Linked DNA regions of Homo sapiens: region 2 is linked to region 1. The links come from fine-mapping of genetic effects on gene expression. A gene starts in region 1. The other region holds a variant in brackets. All regions are shown on one strand. Distances are between the middles of the regions.

Region 1 (5,360 bases):
CTTGAGTCCAGGAGCTCAAGACCAGCATGGGCAACAAAGTGAGACCCCGTCTCGGCAAAAATTTTAAACATTAGCGAGGTGTGATGTCACATGCCTGTGGTCTCAGCTAGTCAGGAGGCTGAGCCAGGTGGATCCCTTGAGTCCAGGAGGTCGAGGCTGCAGTAAGCTGTGATCGCACCACTGCACTCCAGCCTGGGTGATAAAGTGAGACCCTGTCTCAAAAATTAATTCATTAAATAAAATGGCTGAGCAGGTCCAGGGATAAGAGCCCAGAAGGAAACCTGAGTCCTTCAGCAGTGCTGCTCAAGGTCGCCAATGACCCGCTGAGCCTGTGACCCAGGGCCCAGGAGCACCAGCCACCTTCCTGTTCCCGTCGCAGCTCCGCCAAGCCTCCCAACCCTGCCTGCCTTGGTGCCCTCATCAGATGCCCTCTCCTTCTCCCAGAGGCCCTGGAGGCTCCAGCCCTGCCCTGGCCAGGTGGTAGTATGGGCAAAACACGTTCCTCGATAAGCCTCCGTTTCCCCACCGGCAGCAAATAGCTCACAGGGTCACCATGCAGCGCGTGTCCAGCACAGAGCATGGCCCCACAGGTGCTCCAGGGCTAGCTGAGGGCTTTTCACCTGAACCTCTGTCCACTCTCAATCCTGGGAGGCCAGCGTTCCTGTCTATCTCCTCTCTGGAGGCCGCTGCCCTGTGCACCCTAAAATCCCCTTGAGAAGACATGGCAAAGGCTAGATCACGCCAGCCTCTTCAAATCTCATAGGAAACTGGGTGTGTGTAAATCTGGAGGTGTGGACATGGGACATGCATCCCCCCCTGTCCTCAGAGGGCAGCCTGATGAACATGTCACGGAGGCGGAAACAGAGGGTCAGAGAAACCTCACCGCAAGGAAGATGGATCCTGCCTTCTGCGGGGGGAGGCAGTCTTCTACCAGACAGTAACAAGAAGCCCTACCACCCCACCAGAGATGGGAAAAGGAGTTCATTCTCACCAGCAAAAGGGAAATGCAGACACGCCATGGTAAGAGGCAGGCAGCTGCCTTTTTCCCATAGGAACGGGGGGCAGACAGGAAGACGACATCACCAAAGGGACCCTCAAAAATAAGCCTTTGGGAAACAAATGAGCCATTTGGGATGCAGACAGATATCATAAGCCTGACTTGCGCCGGGTGCAGTAGCTCACACCTGTAACCCCAGCACTTTGGGAGGCCGAAGCAGGAGGTCGGCTCGAGGCCAGGAGTTTTGAGACAAGCCTGGACAACATAGCGAGACCCTATCTCCACGAAAACATACAAAGTTAGCCAGGCTTGGTGGCACCCGCCGCCCATAGTCCCAGCTACTCAGGAGGTTCAGGCAGGAGGATCCCTTGAGCCCAGGAGGTCGAGGCCTCAAAGAGCTGTGATCGCACCACTGCACTCCAGCCTGGACTATAGAGTGAGACCCTGTCTCTAAAAATAGGGTTAAAATGAGCATCGTGAGTCTGGTGTCACAGCCTCCGAGAAGCCTCTCCCACGCGTTGCCTTCTTCACCAACTCCCAGCCCCCGCCAAAGCCGGCTGCGTGCTCCCAGGACATCACGACCTATGCTACGGGATCTGTAGGCACAGCTGTCGGCAGGTCCCTGAGAGCACAGCCGGCATCGTACGCAGCTCTGAATCCCCCGCCTCAAACACAGCGAAGACGCTGGGCTGTGGGGAGCTGACAAGTGATTGCTTGCATCTGTCCACCTGCAAACAACCGCCCACAGGTGCAGGTGTCCCAAGCACACTTATCAGGGAAATCAGAAAAAAATGCTACCTTTTCTGGCAAAACAGGAAAATAAACCTATTCTTAAATCCTAGAGAAGATGTTTCTCTTTTGCAGGAAAAGGTTCTGAGCTGAGACTGTTTCATGGTTAAAGTAAAAACAGTGCTTGAAACTCACGCCCAATGAGGAAATCTGGGACGAAGGAAGTCAGGGGCTGGGTGAAGCAGAGAGCCACTATCAAGGGACAGAGGTAACAGGGGAGTCTGAATGACATCACACTCGATAACCCTCCCTCCACGACTTTCCTTGCGATGTCCCTCTTTTTCTCCAATCCAAATCCCACATCTCCTCCAAGAAACGCTGCCATGACGATGAAAACCACCATGACGCTGTGAGGTGGAGTCCACCAACGTCCTCTGCCCGACCAAAAGCATGGAATTCCTCGGAGCCCACTCGAGTAAGCTTTGACTTCCTCCCTGCCAGTCATGCTGGACACAGGGCTCGACAAACACAAGAGACGATCCTCGGACCATCCTAACTCAACGACTGGAGACTGAGGTGGCCGCTGCCAGAGGCGCGGCCGGAGGAAACGTCATGGAAATAAACAAGGGCGGCCACAAGCACATGGGGTCCGGGAAGCGGCGGGCGCCAATCAGGGGCAGGAGGAGTCCAGGACCTGCCTAGCGCCGGCCGCGCCCGTCTCCCGAGCCCCCTTGTGTCAGGCCCGGTGCCCGGTACTCAACATGCGCTCGCACTCCGCCCTCTAGACAGCCCTGGCAGGACGCGTCCTCCTAGTTGACATTTCACACTCGTGAAGACGAAGGCTTAGGGACATCTAGTGCTTTGCACCGGGTCCCAGGGTGGGTGGTTCCGGTCCCGACTGGGAAAACCGTCGCCCGCGAACGTGTGGGGAGGAGGCTGGGCCGAGAACGGGGACCCCGGGCGGGACCGGGGTGGGGTCCAGACCCGGGCAGGGGAGCCGAGCCCAAGGCAAGCAGGCGGGCGGGCATTACCTGCTGCGGGGGGCGCCTCTCCGCCGTCACCGGGCGCGCCGGAGCCCCGGGCCCCGCGGTGCCGGAAGTGGCAGTAGGGCCGCCGGCAGGGCCCCCCGGGCGCCCCAGACCAATAGGGGCAGTCAATGGCCCGGAAGAAGCCAGTGGAGCGTAGCATGGTCCGTCCCGCGGCGGGGCCCCGGCCCGGAGCCGCCCGGGCCCCAGGGCCCCCTCACTGGCGCCGCGGTCGCCGCCGCCCGCGCCTCACGGACCCCGCCGCCGCCATCTTGCTCCGAGGCCCCCGGAGGCCCTCGGGACGCCGCCGCAAGGGACCCCGGGAGGGGCTGCCCGCAGCGCGCCTGCTCAGAAACGCCTGCTCCTGCGCGACCAAGGCTGGTGACGGACCCCTGGGCCGGGACAGACGGCCGCGGGAGGAAGTAAGGAGGGCAGGGGCTGCCCTGCCTGCGGTCTCCGGGAGCCTCGCCAGCGCCGCCGCCCGACCTTCGGCGGCTGTAGCGGCGCCATCTTGAGCCCCAGGCCCCTGCGGCGCCAGGGCTGTCCACGGCGCGCCTGACCAAAAAAGCCCCGCGGGGCCCGCTATTACTCATTTGCATATTATTTCCTTTCGTTAGCATATCACCTTAAGGCGCCCTCTGCTGGACGAGGAGAGTTCTGCGGGGAGGTGGCCTTAAACCTGGGCCAGGTGAAACTCATGGTTGAATTACTCCGTTCACAGTCTTTAAAAATCCCCTCGCCCTGGTATACAGCTGGCTCTCAAGAAACGCCTTAATCTCCCCAACCTCGACTCTTGTCATCAGTCTAATGACCAGGTCCACGTTCACTCATTTGTTCAACAAATATTGAGCGCCTACTGTATACCAGCTAGAGGGTGCATTTTAACAGACAAACGAGGAACAAGGCTGGGATGGGGCAACTCTGTAGTCTGGTGGAGTAGGCCCACGTCTTAATGGGAAGTTTAACCTGGTGCATTTTGGTGGGATTGTAAAATAGTGCCACTGCTATGTAAAACAAAAAACCCAAAAAGTTTGTTTTTAAGAGACAGGGTCTTGCTCTGTCACCCAGGCTGGAGAGCAGTGGTGCGATCACGGCTCACTGCAGCCTCGACTTCCCTGGCTCAGGTGATTCTCCCACCTCAGCCTCCCGAGTAGCTAAAACCACAGGTGTGCACCATCATGCCTGGCTAATTTTTTGTATTTTGTGTAGAGATGGAAAAAGTTAAACAGAATTACCCTATGAGCAACTCTATTCCTGGGTATACACCCAAAAAGAATAGAAAGCAAAGTCTTAGGTCGGGCACAGTGGCTCATGTCTGTAATCCCAACACTCTGGGAGGCTGAGGCGGGTGGATCACTTGAGCCCAGGATTTCAAGACCAGCTTGGCCAATATGGCAAAACCCTGTCCTACTAAAAATACAAAAATTAGCTGGGCGCGATGGCTCACGCCTGTAATCCCAGCTCTTTGGGAGGCCGAGGAGGGAAGATCAACCGAGGTCAGGAGTTTGAGACCAGCCTGGCCAAGATGGCGAAACCCCACCTCTATTAAAAATACAAAAATTAGCTGGGCGTGGTGGCGGGCGCCTGTAGTCCCAACTACTTGGGAGGCTGAAGCAGGAGAATCACTTGAACCTGGGAAGCGGAGGTTGCAGTGAGCCAAGATTGCACCACTGCACTCCAGCCTGGGTGACAGAGTGACAGTCCGTCTCAAATAACAATACAATGGTTAAGATGACAAATTTTATGTTATGTGCATGTGATTTTACCACAATTATAAATAAATGACAGGATGCAATGATGAGGGGACGTGGGTTGGGATGGGTCATGGGCGACTCTGCAGAGGACCTGATCTAATCTCAAAGCTGTCCTATCATGGGCAGTGGAGGCGTAGACTCCCTGTCATGGCTCCTGATGATGCGTGAGAGATGAACTCTCATTTATGCGATTGCTCCATCCGTGCCGGCTGGTGTCGGTCATTCATTCAGCAAATAGTTACTGAGCACCTACTGTGTGCCACAAAATGCTAGAAACATCCATAAGCAGAGCAGAGAACCCCACTCTGGTGGAGGTGATGGTGTAGGCAGGGAGGCCGACAATGAACACAGCAATAAGTGAGACAGCCTGAAGCCAGGTGGAAAGTGCTTTGAGAACAGAAACAGGAGAAGAGCCTGGACTGGGCACAGGGCTGGTCTGGGTGATTCTATGGGGAAGGCGGGATTTGTGCGGTTTTACAGAAAATTAGGGGCCAGGCATGGTGCCTCTCGCCTGTAATCCCAGCACTTTGGGAGGCTGAGGCAGGCAGATCACTTGAGGTCAGGAGTTCGAGACCAGCCTGACTAACATGGTGAAACCCCATCTCTACTAAAATTACAAAAATTAGCTGGGTGTGGTGGCCCATGCCTGTAATCCCAGCTACTCGGGAGGCTGAGGCAGGAGAATCCCTTGAACCTGGGAGGCGGAGGTTGCAGTGAGCCAAGATTGCACCACTGCACTCCAGCCTGGGTGACAGAGTGAGACAGTGTCTCGAAAAAATAAAAGATAAATAAATAAATAAAAGATGATGAGGGAGCCAAGCAGGCTTCTGGAGGAAAAGCATTCCGGGCAGAGGG
Region 2 (5,360 bases), 24 kb before region 1:
CTAGCCTGGGCAACAGAGACCCTGTCTCTAAACAAAAAAAAAAAACACCAACCAACCAAAAAAACAAAACAAGACAAAACAAAAAAACACCGCCAGGGCGGTCGGGCATGGTGGCTCACGCCTGTAATCCCAGCACTTTGGGAGGCCGAGGCGGGTGGATCACGAGGTCAGAAGATCGAGACCATCCTGGCTAACATGGTGAAACCCCGTTTCTACTAAAAATACAAAAACAGCCAGGCGTGGTGGCGGGCGCCTGTAGTCCCAGCTACTCAGGAGGCTGAGGCCAGAGAATGGCGTGAACCCAGGAAGCAGAGCTTGCAGTGAGCCAAGATCGTGCCACTGCACTCCAGCCTGGGCGACAGAGCGAGACTCCATCTCAAAAAAAAAAAAAAAACACCAAGGCATGGGGAGGGAAGGTGAAGGCTGTACTGCGGTGTGGAGCACGAAGGCCCGCAGGGCAGGGGCGAGGCTGGCCCTCCGCAGGTCCCATGTGGCCGGGCCTCAGGGCGTGGTCTTGGGGGTGGTGGTCCTGGCCGAGATGGGAGGGGCTACCTGTAAGGATGGACTGTGGGCGATTCGCTTAGGGATGATGGTGGTGGTAGTCTTGGACGCCATCCCCGACAATGTGCGTGTTTTCAGCTGCTGGCCACCTGGCTCAGGGCCGTTGGAGGACTGGCTGCCGCTGGCCGCAAGGGTCCTCTTGGCACCTGTGGGGGCTGGCGGGGCACAGGGGGTGTGGGCACAGGGCGAGTGGCTGCCCATCACCACGTGGCGGAGCACCAGGCAGCCGCGGCCGCTCAGCGCCAGCAGCACGTGCATCTCCGCGTGCAGGGGGCCGGGCCAGGGTGAGGGGCTGGGGCTGCGCAATGGCATCAGGCTCTAGCTGCCTTCAGGCAAGTCCATCGAGGCAGAGGACACAGGTCAGGCTGCGGAGGCCGCTGAGGACACGTCACCGGTGGGGTGGTCCAGGCCTCTGCCACGTGTTCTGACCCCAAGCCCAAGGCGTCGATGTCTGAGGGAAAGGCCCTGGCTCCCGGACAGAGGACCGAAGGGTCTCGGGTGCCCCCACCTGCTCATTGGCTTTGCCCTGCCCTGCGGCCTCTGTGTTCTGCCTTGCCCTTTGATGAAGTCACAAACCAGAGGGAGGAGGCCAGGCCTGCAGGGGCTGCTTCGGAGGGCTGGCCACGCGGGCAGCTGCAACCTGGGCATGTACGTCTGTGTGGCAGGGGGGCTTCTGGACTGGGGGCTCGGCACCGACCCAGGAAGGGGAGCTGTGAGCAGGGACATCTGGCCCTAGTCTCAGAGCAACATCCCTCGAAATGCCATCTGGCCCTGGAAGGTGCAAGGGAGGCAGGATGAGTCTGCTCATGCTACCGCGGGCCGCCCAGCAAGGAAGCAGGCTGCCCGCCAGGCTGGCACGCGCCTCTTGCAGTGGAGGGTTTGCTCTTCAGGAACGGACAGAGAACCTCCAGACTCCCTCGGCTGCACGCTGGGGGCGAGCCCAGGCAGCCACAGGAGTCCTCCAAGCCAGATGAGCCCGCCCTGCGGCACTGCCAGCACTTGGGACGCCAGACTCCCTTCAGGCGGCGGGCCCCAAGGGCACTGCGACAGCTCAGCACCCACCACAGATCAGCAACAGGACAACCCGAGCGCGGAGACACAGACGGGAAGCGTGTGGGGTCCTGGGATAGGCCCAACTCAATGATTTCCCCTCCCTGGGGCTAAGGTCTCAGCCGTGAGGGGGCTCTGGGGAGGGGAGGTCAGAGTAGCCTGGAGAGCTCTCCCTAAGGAGGGCCGTGGGATCCATGGGATCTGCAGGGGAATCGCCGGGGCTGGCCCTAAGGCTCTCCAGCCAGCGCCAGGGAGGCAGGGGCTCCAAACCAGCAGGCTGCTCAGGGTGGTCCTCGGACAGCAGCCATGCCCTCCCAGGGAGCTTGCCAGACACACAGACCTTTCCCAGCCTCCAGACCAGAACCTGCATTTTTTAGGAGCTTTCTGGGGGACCCTCATCTGTGACCTGCCTCCAGGGATACTTTCTCGCTCTACAGACACCACTGATGTGAAGACGCAGGAGACAGGACAACCCCCCGTGAAGGGTCCTGTCCACCCACCACTGAGGCCTGGCCCGACTTTCTACAAGACCCTGCTGGGGGGGAAGTGCCCCTCGGAGTAAAGGAAATACAGCCCCACTCCTGGGAAGACAGCACTCATTTCCATCAGAGGCCACGCCCCCCACTCACACGCCAGGAGAAAGCCACACCTGCAGAAGCCTGCTCCCCACCCAATGCCAGGTACCCCGACATGGCTCCCCATTCCCTGGAACCACAGGCTCAGGCCCTGGTTCAGCCCAGTCCCCAGCAGGCTGTTGGACTCCTAGTAACCCCGGAGCTGGGTCAGGGAAGGAAGGTGCTGGGCCAGGCCTCCTGCACCCCTCAACAGTCCCCATTTCACAGACAGGCAGGCTGAGGGCCCCAGGGAGGGGGCCCAAAGTCATCCCATGAGCAAGCACCATGTGGTTCAGGTGAGCTCAGAGACCTCAGGGTGCCACCTCTCCTGCCCACATGCCCACGGCCCCCCGGCACAGGCCCCCTGGGCCAGGACTCACCTGCAGCCAGGCGGGGGTTGGGGATGTGGGCGATCCTCCTCTTCTCGCCAGGGGCGGAAATGTGGACGGAGGGCGACTTCTCTGCCAGCCTGGCGGGGGCCTGCAGCAAGCTCGCCGATGCCCTCTGCGCCTGCTGGGCCCGCAGGTAGCACACCTCCTGCGCCGTCGGGGGCCGGGCCGGGGGCACCG[C/T]GGGACCCCTCCTCGGGGGCTCCACCTGCGTCACCACAAATGCTAAGGCCTGGCAGCACAGCGGGGGCACCTGGAGCAGGCGACCCCGGGCAGGCTTGGGAGAGGGTGGCTGGAGCTCGGGGGCCGGAGGCACCACCTCCCTGGCTGCCTTCTGAGCTGCTGGGCACACTGGGGGGAAGCAGCAGGGGGCAGTGGTCCTCAATGCCATGTGGCTCCAGGCTCCCCCACTCCCAGTGTCTCCCGGTGCCCAGGCTATGTCCTCAGCCCTGATAAGGCACGGGTGGGCGGGACTACCCCGATTACACTGGCACTCCAATCCAATCCCACTACGCCTAATCTTCCTCAAAGCCCCTCCTCTGGGGAGGCTCTGGGACTGGAGCAACTGGGACTCTCCTGGCTGCTGACCCCGGAGCCAGGCTCTCTGCTTGTCCTGCACTACCTCGCCACGTCTGCACAGGGGCCTGACAAGCGCTACTGTCTCCGGGCTACAGAGGACACTGGAGCTCAGAGCTGGACAACCGGCCCAGGCCCAGGCCGCACACGGCGCAGCAGGCCGTCTGCCGCACTCTGGGGGAGGTCACCCTGGGGCTGCTGACCTGCTCTGTCCCTCGCCCCAGCACCGTGGCAATCTAACAGGAAGGGGCAGGGCCAGCTCCCTCTGGAACTCGGGCAGCGTCAAAGATAAGGTGTCTTCAAAAAGCTCATGGAAAACGTGCGTTGTGACGAAACTTGCATGGCTTTCAAGTTTTTTTGCCCCAAAATAAACTGATACTAACTTGTCATAACATGTCTGAACCAGACGGAGTTTGAGGCACTAAAAAAAAGTAAGACATCAGTTAGAACAGAGCCCCAGTCAGAGCAACAGGAGTTCTGCTAAAATTGAAGCAAATGTTAAGCATCAAATTTATGGTAAAACTTGGGTGGAAGAACGAATGGGGAAATCACTGATGCTTTACAAAAAGCGTCACAGATTTACAGGAACAATGTCCCAAAGAAATCAGAAGTTTATGAATGGATAACTCATTTTATGTATTTATCTTTTTGAGACAGAGTCTTGCCTTGTCGCCCAGGCTGGAGCGCAATGGCACGATCTTGGCTCATTGAATCCTCCACCTCCCGGGTTCAAGCAATTCTCCTGCCTCAGCCTCCCGAGTAGCTGGGATTACAGGTGCGTGCCACCGCGCCCAGCTAATATTTTGTATCTTTAGTAGAGACGGGGTTTCACCATGTTGGCCAGGCTGGTCTCGAACTCCTGACCTCGTGATCTGCCCACCTCTGGGCGCAGTGCCTCATGCTTGTAATCCCAGCATTTTGGGAGGCCGAGGTAGGCAGATCACGAGACCAGTCTGGCCAACATGGTGAAACCCCGTCTCTACTAAAGATACAAAAATTAGCCTGGTGTGGTGGTGGGCACCTGTAATCCCAGGTACTCGGGAGGCTGAAGCAGGAAAATCACTTAAGCCCGGGAGGCGGAAGTTGCAGTGAGCAGAGATCGTGCCACTGCACTCCAGCCTGGGTAACAGAGCGAGACTCCGTCTCAAAAAAAAAAAAAAAAAAAAAAACAACCAAAAAACAAACAAACAGAAAACAGAGGGATGAAGCTGGGAGCAGTGGCTCACGCCTGTAATCCCAACGCTGGGAAGCCGAGGCAGGAGGATCACTTGAGGTCAGGAGTTGGAAGACCAGCCTGGGTGACAAAGCAAGACCCCCTTTTTTTATAATTTTTTTTTTTTGAGACAGAGTCTTGCTCTATCACCCAGGCTGGAGTGCAGTGGTGCAATCTTGGCTCACTGTAACCTCTGCCTCCTGAGTTCAAGCGATTCTCCTGCCTCAGCCTCTCTAGTAGCTGGTATTACAGGCACCCATCACCATGCCCAGCTAATTTTTGTATTTTTAGTACAGATGGGGTTTTGCCATGCTGGCCAGGCTGGTCTCGAACTCCTGGCCTCAGGTGATCCACCCGCCTTGGCCTCCCAAAGTGCTGGGATTACAGGCGTGAGCCACCAAACCAGGCCAACCTCGTCTTTAAAAAAAAAAAAAAAAAAGGCTCCTGCTGGCCTGGCCTCTGCGGACCTTACCTCCTGGCCTTGCTTGGAAAGGTGGGAGATCCTCCTCTTCTGCCCGGGGAACAGAGTGGTCAGACCCGAAAGCCCCTTCTCCTCACTCTTCTCTTCCTTGGGGGGCTAAGACACATGTCCGTCCGTCAGCACAGGTCTGCCCTCGCTGCCAACACCAACACACCCCAACCTCAAACTGCCCCCGGCAAGTGGGGAATGGAACAGTCCAGCCCCCAGGCACAGCAGCTGAGGGCTCAGGGCCAACAGTCCCTGGGCTTTGTGTGGGTGCAGTCGGAGGGGTGGGCAGGTGTCACACGTTCTGCAGATGCCCAAGGCTACCTCTCCTGGGCACCCAGGGCCCCAGCTTGGAGACCCCAGGGCTGCAGAATGAAAGCACACTGGGAAAGCGAGGCCACCTTGGGCCGAACCAGCTGCTGCGGGCTGAGCACTTGGGCTCAGTCTGTGTGGAGTGAGCTCCCCCTGGTGGCCAATTTGGGGACACGGGGCCA

The links. PIP is the estimated chance that this variant, and not a neighbour inherited with it, causes the effect.
Region 2: its variant is fine-mapped to the expression of REXO1 in whole blood (TOPMed, PIP above 0.99).

Annotation. Positions count from the first base shown.
Region 1 is chr19:1,845,445-1,850,804 of GRCh38, forward strand. REXO1 (RNA exonuclease 1 homolog) reads right to left here and starts at 3,039. Exons shown (of 16, transcript NM_020695.4): 1 at 2,758-3,039. The coding sequence starts at 2,914. RefSeq lists a silencer at 2,767-3,236 and enhancers at 3,257-3,406, 3,427-3,506.
Region 2 is chr19:1,820,967-1,826,326 of GRCh38, forward strand. It overlaps REXO1 (RNA exonuclease 1 homolog), which reads right to left. Exons shown (of 16, transcript NM_020695.4): 3 at 4,873-4,977; 4 at 2,606-2,819; 5 at 553-716. LOC100288123 (a long non-coding RNA gene) reads left to right here and starts at 1,123. Exons shown (of 4, transcript NR_152847.1): 1 at 1,123-1,726; 2 at 2,049-2,291; 3 at 2,657-2,750; 4 at 3,143-3,579. The variant C/T (reference allele first, on the strand shown) is at 2,795.